Regions from separate parts of the Homo sapiens genome. Here all the other regions are linked to region 3. Evidence: fine-mapped expression QTL. A gene starts in region 3. Each other region holds a variant in brackets. All regions are shown on one strand. Distances are between the middles of the regions. Region 1 has its middle 24 kb from the start of CAND1. Region 2 holds the start of LOC124902957 (a long non-coding RNA gene). Region 3 holds the start of CAND1 (cullin associated and neddylation dissociated 1). Region 4 overlaps LOC105369812 (a long non-coding RNA gene).

The links. PIP is the estimated chance that this variant, and not a neighbour inherited with it, causes the effect.
Region 1: its variant is the best candidate, but not a certain one, in a credible set for the expression of CAND1 in whole blood (TOPMed, PIP 0.59).
Region 2: its variant is the best candidate, but not a certain one, in a credible set for the expression of CAND1 in stomach (GTEx, PIP 0.87).
Region 4: its variant is the best candidate, but not a certain one, in a credible set for the expression of CAND1 in aorta (GTEx, PIP 0.54).

The regions. Positions count from the first base shown.
Region 1 is chr12:67,243,926-67,246,614 of GRCh38, reverse strand. No RefSeq gene overlaps it. Among named protein-coding and RNA genes, the nearest start is that of CAND1, 24 kb to the left of the region's middle. The variant TC/C (reference allele first, on the strand shown) is at 1,037.
Region 2 is chr12:67,326,772-67,329,460 of GRCh38, reverse strand. LOC124902957 (a long non-coding RNA gene) reads right to left here and starts at 940. Exons shown (of 2, transcript XR_007063354.1): 1 at 420-940. The variant C/T (reference allele first, on the strand shown) is at 1,229.
Region 3 is chr12:67,267,792-67,270,480 of GRCh38, reverse strand. It overlaps CAND1 (cullin associated and neddylation dissociated 1), which reads right to left and starts at 1,123. Exons shown (of 15, transcript NM_018448.5): 1 at 696-1,123. The coding sequence starts at 763. RefSeq lists enhancers at 357-1,008, 1,288-1,547, 1,688-1,987.
Region 4 is chr12:67,411,447-67,414,135 of GRCh38, reverse strand. All of the region lies in intron 1 of LOC105369812 (a long non-coding RNA gene), which reads right to left. Among named protein-coding and RNA genes, the nearest start is that of LINC02420, 30 kb to the left of the region's middle. The variant G/A (reference allele first, on the strand shown) is at 1,349.

The sequences.
Region 1 (2,689 bases), 24 kb after region 3:
CAGCCCAGCATGGTGGCTCATGCCTGTAATCCCAGCACTTTGGGAGGCCGAGGTGGGCGGATCGCATGAGGCCAGGAGTTCAGGACCAGATTGGCCAGCATGGTGAAACCTCGTCTCTACTAAAAAATACAAAAATTATCCTGGCATGGTGCTGCACACCTGTAGTCTCAGCTACTTAGGAGGCCGAGGCAGGAGAATCACTGGAACCTGGGAGGCGGAGGTTGCAGTGAGCTGAGATCAAACCACTGCACTCCAGACTGGGCAACACAGTGAAACTGTAAAAAAATTATTTTCTTTTCAGTGGAATTTTCCAACTTAAATAGTATTATATTATCTTGCTTTCTAATATTTTACTTCAGAATAACACATTATTATAGTCCACTGGTTTGCTTCCCATATTCCTTTCCTTAAAAAAACACAAAGCTATGTTTAAAGAACATATGAATTTTAAGGGCCAATAAAATGACCTATTAAATTTATATTAATATACATAATTTCAATATGTATGTTCAAAGTAACTGTTTTTGCTTGATGATATGTGATGTAGAAAGAAACCCACAAAGTAACTGTTTTGCATTTATCATTTCAAATTAACTAACATTTGTGATTACCCATTTTGTACACAGTGCTGTGCTAGATGTCATGATACTATTGATACTATCCCAACCCTTTGCAGATCGCTGTCTAGTTGTTATAACTTACAAAATGCAATATGGAAGAGGGCTATTGACTTTGATGTCAGACAGAGTGGAGCTCTTCTTAGCTACCATTTACAAACTATGATCTTGGACAAAGTAGCTGTTATTATTATCAGACTGATGGTGGAAAGTGCCGCAACGTGCAATATGTAAACTGCAGATAAATGACTAGGTCTGACTGTGGTGAGGATAGACTTAAAATACTTGATAAGTAAATGGAATTAGAGAGGGACTTTTAAGGATGGGTAGGAGAGCAGAAAGAGGAGCCCTGGTGGGGCCAGAAAAAAAAAAAAAGGAAATTTCTTGATTTTAAAATAAAACACCCCCAATTTTTTTTT[TC/C]GAGACAGAGTCTCACTCTGCTGCCCAAGCTGGAGTGCAGTGGCACAAACACTGCTCACTGCAGCCTGGACTTCCCAGGCTCAAGTGATCCCCCCACCGCAGCCTCCTGAGTAGCTGGGTCCATAGACATGTGCCACCATGCCCAGCTACTTTTTTTTTTTTTTGTAGAGTTGAGCAGCATCTCTTGCCCATGTTGCCCAGGCTGGTAAACCCCTAATTTAAAAGTATCTGTGCCTGATTATTTGACTTAAACATTTAATTAATATAAATGTCATTTTTATTGATACATGTAAATGTGCCTTTTTTGCTTATATTTTATAAAATACTCAAGTGAATATGTTGTGACAATGTTACACAATCTAATATATGCCAAAATACATACTTTTAAACTCAGTTGTTCTACGGAGCTAACCAAAAATGATTTTTAAAGTAAATAATCAAGGAATTTTTACACATAATACCCACTTTATGCAATAAAAGTTTAAACTTTATACTAAACTTGTATTAAATTCTTGCAAATACTTAAGTCTGTTTTGTTGACTCCTCTCAAACTGGGTTTAATTCTGTTTTAAGCATAATACTTCACAATGCAACCAATAGTTTAGATACCAGGGAAATTCTTGTTCACCATTGGACACAATCTCTCTAGAAACATTATTCCTGAATAAACATAGTGATTTTTTCAAATGTTCCTTTATCATGTTTCTAGAAGTTAAATGCATTAAGATTGTTGCCAGTCAGGGGACTCATGTTTTTAAAAGTAAGGCCAGGCCTACTTGTACCAGTTGAGTCTAGACCAGTGGTGCACTCTGTGTGTGTGTGTGTGTGTGTGTGAGAGAGAGAGAGAGAAGGGGACATGGAAGGTGTACTCCAGGGGTTGCTCAAGACTATCCACTGAGGTTTAGCAAGAAAATGTATGAATTTTTGTTTATATTTATTTTTTAATTCTATTTTGTATGTGTACATACTTTGTTAGAATGATAATATATGTCTACAATTTACAAATAAATTAAACATCATATCTTGGGGAAGGCACTCAATTATTTTTAACTGTTAAGGGTATGCAAGCAATTAAAATATTTGAAAACATTGGTCTGAAAGCAAAATCAAGAAGTATCCTTTTTCTTCTGGCCCTGCCAGAGCTCCTTTTTCTGCAGTCCTACCCATCTTTAAAGGTCCCTCTCTAATTCCATTTCTTTATGAAGTATTTTGAAGTCTATCCTCATCACAGTTAAACATTTTCAAAATATATTTGAAAACATCAGTCCCACTTTTTCACACATCCCAGAGTGCCAGTATCAGTTCCAAGAGAACCCGAATTTTCTCATTCTGGGTCTGTGAGTATCACCTAGTACCCTTGTCAAAAGGCTACTACAACCCTGCAATATTGCATAAGGAGAATCAGTTCCCTTTGATTTTTGCACTCTGGGCACTATGTCGGGGTTAGTTATAAAGCAGGAATAATCCAAATCCACAATGTCATTTACTGTATCTTCCATCAGAGAATAGATGCAATTATATGTCAGATTTGGATTTTATACTTGCTTCACAATTGAAGATTTAAAAAAAAAAAGAGCAAAAGTATTCCATATCCCTTGGCTCCAGTACTATTTTGATTTATCAGCTTGAGATTGACAATAGCAAATAATTAA
Region 2 (2,689 bases), 59 kb before region 3:
CCATGAATTACTATGTGACCTAGTGATCACACTAGTAGGTATATTCCCAAAGGCAAATAAATCATTTTACCAAAAAGACACCTGCACTCAAATGTTTATGACAGTACTATTCACAATAGCAAAGACATAGGGTAAACTCAGGTGTCCATTAATAGTGAGTTGGATTAAGAAACTGTGGTACATATACACCATAGAATACTACACAGCCATAAAAAAGAGCAAAATAATGTCCTTTGCAGCAACACAGACGCCGCTGGAGGCCATTATCCTAAGGAAATTAACAAATTAAGCCAACCAAATATGCTCACTTATAAGTGGGAGCCAAACATTGGCTATACACGGACATAAAGATGGGAACAATAGACACCAGTGACTCCAAAAGGAGAGAGGAGGGAGGGGGACAAAAGGCAAAAAATTACCTATTGGATACTATGTTCACTGCCCGGGTGACAGGTTCAAGTGAAGCTCACAGCATCATGCAATATATCCATGTGACACACCTGCACATGTACCCCCTGAATCTAAAATAAAAATAAATAAATAAATAAAAATGTTTTCTTTTCATTCTTTTTGGTTTGTTTTGATCACATCAAAATGTCTTCATGTCAATAGTACAAGAATCTTCATTGTAGCATTGTTTGAAATAGTAATATGTTGGAAACAACTTCAATATAGAACTCCCTACATAAATTATGAGAAATTTGTACAACAGAATATTAAGGAGCACTTTAAAAGAATGAAACATTTTTATTTCCACTAACATGGAAGGTTCTCCAAGCTATATTGTTAAATGAAGAAAAAAGGGGCAGGGGCAGTATGCTACCATTTGGGTAAAAAAAGAATGCCTACAAATATGTTCATATATGCTTAAACAGTTTGTGGGATACTACACAAGAAACTTAAGAGCAATGCCTCAAAGAAGAGACTCTAGGAGCTTTTTTTTTTTTTTTTTTTTTTGAGACAAAGTTTCACTCTGTCACCTAGGCTGGAGTGCTGTGGCGTGATCTCGGTTCACTGCAACCTCCGCCTCCTGGGCTCAAGCGATTCTACTGCCTCAGCCTCCCAAGCAGCTGGGACTACAGGCGTGTGCCACCATGCCTGGCTAATTTTTGTATTTTTAGTAGAGATGGGATTTCACCATGTTGACCAGGCTGGTCTCGAATTCCTGACCTCAAGTGATCCGGCTGCCTCAGCCTCCCAAAGTGCTGTGATTACAGCCGTGAGCCAC[C/T]GCGCCCGGCCGATATTTGCTTTTTAATATATACCTTTAAAAATATATTGAATTTTCTACCATGCTTATAATACTGATTCAAAAGAGTAATTAATAATTAAAAATTTCTCCATGTAAAAACAGCAGCCTTAAGTGGAGCTATCACAATGTTCCTGACACTAAAAATCATTATTTCCAAACATTACATGCTTGGCACCACCACCTGGAATATCTTGAAATATGGAAGTTATTTATTCATTTATTCAATCATTTATGTATATACCATGTGCTTATTATACATTAGTGAGATAATAAATCAACAGACAAAATCCCTGCTCACATGGAACTTATGTTCTATGCCAGGAGACAGTTAAGGAACATATGATCCATAGGTTATATTGTACATTTAAAGGTGATAAATGTTATTGTATGGAAACAAAAGGGTAATAGAGATTGAGAAAGGCAGGATTGGTGACATTTAGGCAGACACTTGAAAAAGCAGAAGGAGTGAGCCATGTGGATATCTGGCATTGACACAGCACTCTGGGGACAGTGTTCCAGGCAGAAGGAAGAGCCAATGTAAATGTCATGCACCTGGCATGATCAATCAACAGCAAGGAGGCTAGGGTAGCTTTAGCGGAGTGAACAAGGGATAAAGTAGCTAGAGATGCAGTGAGAGAAGCAACGAGGGTTATTATATCATGAAGGGCCATGTAGGCTGTATGTAATAAGGTGTGTGGCATTTTCTGAGTTAAATGGAAGGCCAGTGGAGGCTTTTGAGCTATGGAATGGTGTAATGAGATTTACTTTCTTATAGGACCACTGATTGCTCTTTTGAGATTAGATTGGAGGAGAGCAAGTGAGGAAGCATCAAGGATAGTTGGGAGACTATTACAGCAACCCAGGCAAGCCAGAGATTATGATAAACTACACTAGACTGGTAGTATAGAAATGCTGAGAGGGGATCAGAGCCACAGACACATTTTGAAAGCAGAACAAACAGGATTTCCTAATAGATTGTATATGGTCTGTGAAAGAAAAGGAGGAATCAAGAATGACTTGCAGCCTTTTGGATTGAGTAGCTGGAAGGATGAGGCTATTACTACAGTGAAGAGCACTACAGGCAGAGAATTTATGAGGTAGAGAGTCAGGAGTTCAGTTCTGGATCTGTCAAGTTTGGGAAGCTACTTAGACAACCAAGTAGAGATGTTAAGTAGCTATAGTTGTATATACAGGGCTTAAGTTCAGGTGAGAAGTTCTGATTGGAGATATTGAGAGTTGTCAGTATAGATGGTATTTAATTCTATACTGCTGAGTTGATGAGTCCCCTAGGGAGTGAATGTAGATAAAGAGAAAAGACCCAAGATCTTAGTCAAGAAGAGGAGCAACAATAAAGATGACCAAGAAAAATGCTGATGATGTTCTTTTTCTTGTCCAGGGTGATAGTTACATAGTTACATGGGATATTAACATTTTGATAAC
Region 3 (2,689 bases):
ATGAGACTGAAACCCCGAGTTCCTAAGTTGGTTTTACCTGACAAGAGGAACTGACAGTGATGCTGGCGGGAAAACCCTATGAGCGAAGTTTCCTCCATCCTGGCTCCCCTCCCCCTTCTTCCCACCTTCACGAAAATTAATAATCCACAAAAGAACTATGTATCAGCCAAGAGCGCAAAAGTTCATCATTCCACCTGAATGCAGCAAGGCCCACGCGCACCTGCGGGCAGAGAGGAGGCTGCCGGGTCCCCGAGTGGGCAGCAGCTTGGGCCCCAGCGAGCAAGGCGGCCTAGCGCCGCAGGATGGCAAGCGAATAGGCCCGGCGCCCGGTCTCCCGGCCTAGAGCAACTCCCTTCTCCACAATGGTGGGTGGTTTAGCCCCTTCGCGCTACCTGAGACGCAAGAATCGCCTCCTGGTGGGGCAGGGAAGGATGTGGGGGCGCTGAGACAAGCAAACGGGGCCTAGAGACCGCGGCGGGCAACTGCCTAGGAGAAAGAATGGGGGGAGGGGGTTGCAAGAGGGGAGAGGAAAGGGGCTCCGCAGGGATCGGGAGGCCAGCGGACCGGTGGGCTGGAGACTTCGGGGCAGAGAAGCTACCGGCTACGGCCGAAGGGGTGGGGCAAGGCCTGCGTGACGGCCAGGGCCGCGGCTGCGAGAACCCCGAGGTGGGGTGAGGGTCGGATCTCGGCCTCACCTAAAGTCCTTGTCGCTGGATGTCATTTTTTCCAGCAAATTGGAAATGTGGTACGAGGCGCTCGCCATGTTGACGGCCTCGATCCCGCCTGCTGGCGCTGCTGGAGCTGCTGCCCGCTGCCGCTGCCGCCGCCGCCGCCGCCACTGGAGCTCCTCCTCTCGCTCGCGGCGGCTCCCGCTTCCAGGGTCGCAGCGCGACGCCGACGCTGACTAGGGAGGCGCCTCGACGGGCTGCCCCCTCCCTGGCGAGGCGTGGGCCTGTCCCGGGGTAAGCCGAGGCTACAGAGCCAGCCTAACGACGGCGCTGTTCGCGTGAGAACGAGCTCATGGGCGGCGGGGCGTACAGAAGGGCCTCTACGGGGAGCCAGACACTTCCACTCAGGGCCGTCTCGCTCCCACTCGCTCCGCACTCGCTCCCTAGGGCAAAAGGCCAAAGCCCGCCTCCTTCGCTCCGGGGGCGGGGGCGGCAGACGCGGGCGCTACGGAAAGCTAAGGTCAGAGTTCACGGAGGCCTCCCCACGCACGCTGTGGAGAAGAGAGTTAAAAAACAATTCGGTTGGCTGAAGCCTGTGTCAGTTTTCATGTGACCCGCCTTTTGGAGGCATGACAACACAAAAAAAAGGGGCTGTTCTCGCGAGACTCTAAAGCGACGGTTAAGGGACAGGGGACGAGTGGAGCAAGTGGGCCTTAATCTGAAAATAACTTGATTGTTTAATGACATTAAGAGAAAAAGATTACGAGCTTTGAGAAGGAGGAAGCCTGGGAGTAACGACAGTTAAGGAGTTAGCTTGCGGAACCAACATAAGAATTTATAACAGGGAGGTGTCGTTTGGGATCAGACGCGTGGCCTGCATTGCCGTAGCCACCGTGGTGTAATGTTGCCACGTAAAAACCACAAATCCCAGAATTCAGTCGGGTGATACACTGGCTCAGAATGTGATTGGCTGCGGGAACTAGTAGCTTCCTCATTGGCTCCCGTGGAAGGAGTGAATGCTGGGATTTGCAGTCTGATGGGGGAGCCGTGCTGGGTAAAAACCTTAGAATCGTCGCGCACTCCGTTTCTGCCGCGGATTCTTATATTCTCCAATACAGGCTTTTTCTGTTATGCAGTATTTGCAGAGCAGGCTGCTGCAGTTTGGCCAGGCGCATTGCGGATCAGTTGGTGTTCTTGCCAGAGGCCTAGCAGCAGCTTCCTAGCGCTACTACTTGCACCTCCCAAGGCAGCTGAGCCTCCCCACTTCTCTGGCCAGACACACTCCTACCGTGCATCGTAGAACCACCTCTCTGACGCCAGCAGGACCTTAGTAAGAGTAATGGGTATGCGACAGATGGCTGTAGTCAGGCCCTACTGATTTCAAAATAGCTAAAAGACTATCTCTGTAGTTAGCTTTTGTGGCCTTGATGGACCTGCAGCTGTGTATTGCTCCCTCAGACGTACAAATTCGTGGAGATGAGTTATGAAAGTATTTAGTATCCAAGTTTTTCATCTGCTTAATATTTGGGATTTTAAACACAAGTTTTGCCAGCTAGGGGTCAACATCCCTGAAAGTGTTAGGGATGGAGCTAGCTGACAGGCCTTTCTAAAAGAACAGAGAGCCTGGTGAAGAGATGAAAAATCAATCTCACTTGATACTCCTGTTAAAAACAACAACAAACCTTTAAATAGCTCTCTACTAACACATAACTCAAATCCGATCAAATCTACCTGACCTTTACCATTGTTTTCTGTATTCATCAACTATTACTGAGTACTTCAAAGTCAGGCAATAGGAGTTAATAAAACAGATGAAACTTGGTTTAGCCTCATAATATGTGTTTAAATTTCACACATACCTCTGATCTGCTCTCATGTATCCTTCTACTTGAATGTATGTAATATAAAGGCCGGGTGCGGTGGCTCATGCCTGTAACCCCACCACTTTGGGAGGCCGAGGCGGGCAGATCAGGGCATCAGGAGTTCGAGACCAGCCTGGCCAATATGGTGAAACCCCATCT
Region 4 (2,689 bases), 140 kb before region 3:
CGAGATAAAGAAAACACTGTTCTTTGCTGCTCCCCTGGTTACCCTCAAAAGCCAGAAAGAAGGGAGGATGAAGAGAAAGTCAGCCTCTGCAGACATAGCTGTCATTTGTAACTGCTGCTGTTTCCCAGTCAGCTTAAATGGAAAATGGACTGCTCTTACACCAACGTCACTTAAGTCCATCACGGCAGTACTCCAGGTCCTCCTTTCCCATGTATTGCCTGAGTGGGGCACATTGCCCCCTGACAGACACAGGATGCTGCCCCCAGGCCAACACTTAGAGCTAGAACAGCGACGCTCATCACAGAGCTAGAATTGCAAGCTCAGTCAGGTACAGGGAGTGTTGTGCCTGATTGCAAAAAACTGACTCAGCCTTTCAGTAAAAGTGCCTTAGGGAATGGAACTAGATTGTCCTGTGACAAACCAATGAACACATCTGCTTGTCTCAAAATATGTGAAGCAGAACCAAGCTTCCAGTGCTGAACACAGGACTGCTCTAGTCACCAGGCAGCATCCTTTCCCAAAGAAGGTTTCATAGAACACTAGCCTAGTAGATGATCTTGGCAAAAAGGAACCCATAACTAAGTAAGTTCTGGAAACGCTGTATTTTGTTTCTCCCCTCTTGGAAACTGAAGATGCACATTAACATATTAAGTGCTCTGAAAAGTCACGCACTGAAGAAAAAACCAGTATGACTCTTGTTTAGCTCAGTATTTCCTGAATATGTTCTTTGATGAGACTCCTTTTTCATTGAGTGCCTATTAATATTTTCTAGAATAAGGTTTTAAAGAAAAAAACTGAGGAAACGTTATAGAGGAGAATTTATATTCAAAGGGGAAGTCATTTAGTTCCATAAATGGAACGTTAATTGGAGAAAGATTGGCAGTTGTGAAGCACATCTAAAAGTATTGGCAGAGCCTCTGAAGGACTTGGGAAATGGACTTCCATTCCCTGCCAGGAAACTTCCTTAGGAATAAAGGGACTCCTTTGGTCCTGATCAGAAAGGGAGCAGTATTCCTTGTCTGCATTAGAGTGGAATATTGGGATGATTAGCTACCAGAAGAGTCCTCTTTGATCTTTCCCACTCCTTCAACCCCGTATCCATTCCACCGGAAATCCTACCCTACGTCCTCAATCTCAATCTCCCACTTCCAGTGCTGCAACCTCAGCTCACTGCAGCCTTGACTTTCTGGGCTCAAGCGATCCTCCCACCCCAGCCTCCCAACCATCTGGGACCACAGGGAGGTGCAATCACGCCTGGCTAATTTTTGTATTTGTAGTAGACACAGGGTTTCTCCATGTTGCCCAGGCTGGTCTCTAACTCCTGGGCTCAAGCAACCCACCTGCCTTC[G/A]CCTCCCAAAGTGCTGGGATTATAGGCATGAGCCACTGTACCCAGCCTCAATCTCCCACTTCTTACACATCCACTGCTGCAATAGTCTACTCACTGGTTTCCCTACTTTCACTTTTATTCTCCTGCTATGGTCTGAATATTTGTGTCCCACAAAAATTCATATGTTGAAATTCTAACCCTTAAGGTGATAGTATTAGGATAGTATTGGGGCCTTTGGGAGGTGATGAGGTAGTGAGAGTGGCACCCTCATGATTGGGATTAGTGCCCTTATAAAAGAGGCCCCAAAGAGAGCCCTGAGGTTGCAGCGAGAAGGCCACATCTATGAACCATAAAGCCAGCCCTCACCAGACACCGAATTTGCCAGTGCCTTGATCTTGGACTTCACAGCCTCCAGAACTGTAAGAAATAAATGTTGTCTATAAGCCAGCCAGTCTGTGGTATTTTGTTATAACTGCCTAAACAGACTGACACAACATCTAGTGTATTGTCCATACTGCAGCAAGGTGATCTTAGCACTTAGAATCTGATAAAAATCACACTGCTTAAAAACTTCCAAAACCTGTCCCTTGCCATGGAGAAAACACAAAGATAACATAGGCCTGGCCTGGCATTTCCCTTCAAACTCATCTTCACTAATCTTCCACTCATCTGCATGTTCCAGCCACACTCCTCTTCTCCTGGATTCTCTTTACCTGGAATTCTCCTTCCCATCTCGATTTTGCCTATTTGCCCTTCAATATAGATCACGGTGATCTATGATGGTCATAGTGATCACAGATTCATCACAGAACACTATGCAAAAATCATTTCCTCCAGGAAGACTTTCTTGATTCAACAGTCTAGGTTGGAGCAGCTCAAAGTGCAATCCATACTTCGGTGCCAATCTACAAATTGTTTCCAATGTGATAAATATTAAAATTAAGAAATAAGCATTTAGAAAGTTCTACAGTGTTTTAAAATTACCATGACATCCAAGCACATGGTCAGTAGACTCCCCTTGTTGAACAGGGCAAAGAGCAATTCAGGTGTTGTCAAAATCACGTGGTCAGTCACATGTAGCACAATTTGTATGCTAGTATCAGTCCAGGGCAGATTGAAGGGAAAAGTGGTCTTTCAGCACACATAGTTAGAGATGCACTGGTCTAGGTCACTTTGTCATGTTATATAGTCACAGCACCATGTACCTTCTTTCCAAAGCATCTATCACAGTTGGTAATTTTATGTATTTTTTGCGAACTTTTTTCTTATTGTCTTTCTCCTACACAAGACTCCTAGCTTCCTGACAGCAAGAACCAACCAGGCTTGTTGCTGCTCAATGTCAAATCTTTCTAGTCCAGCTGA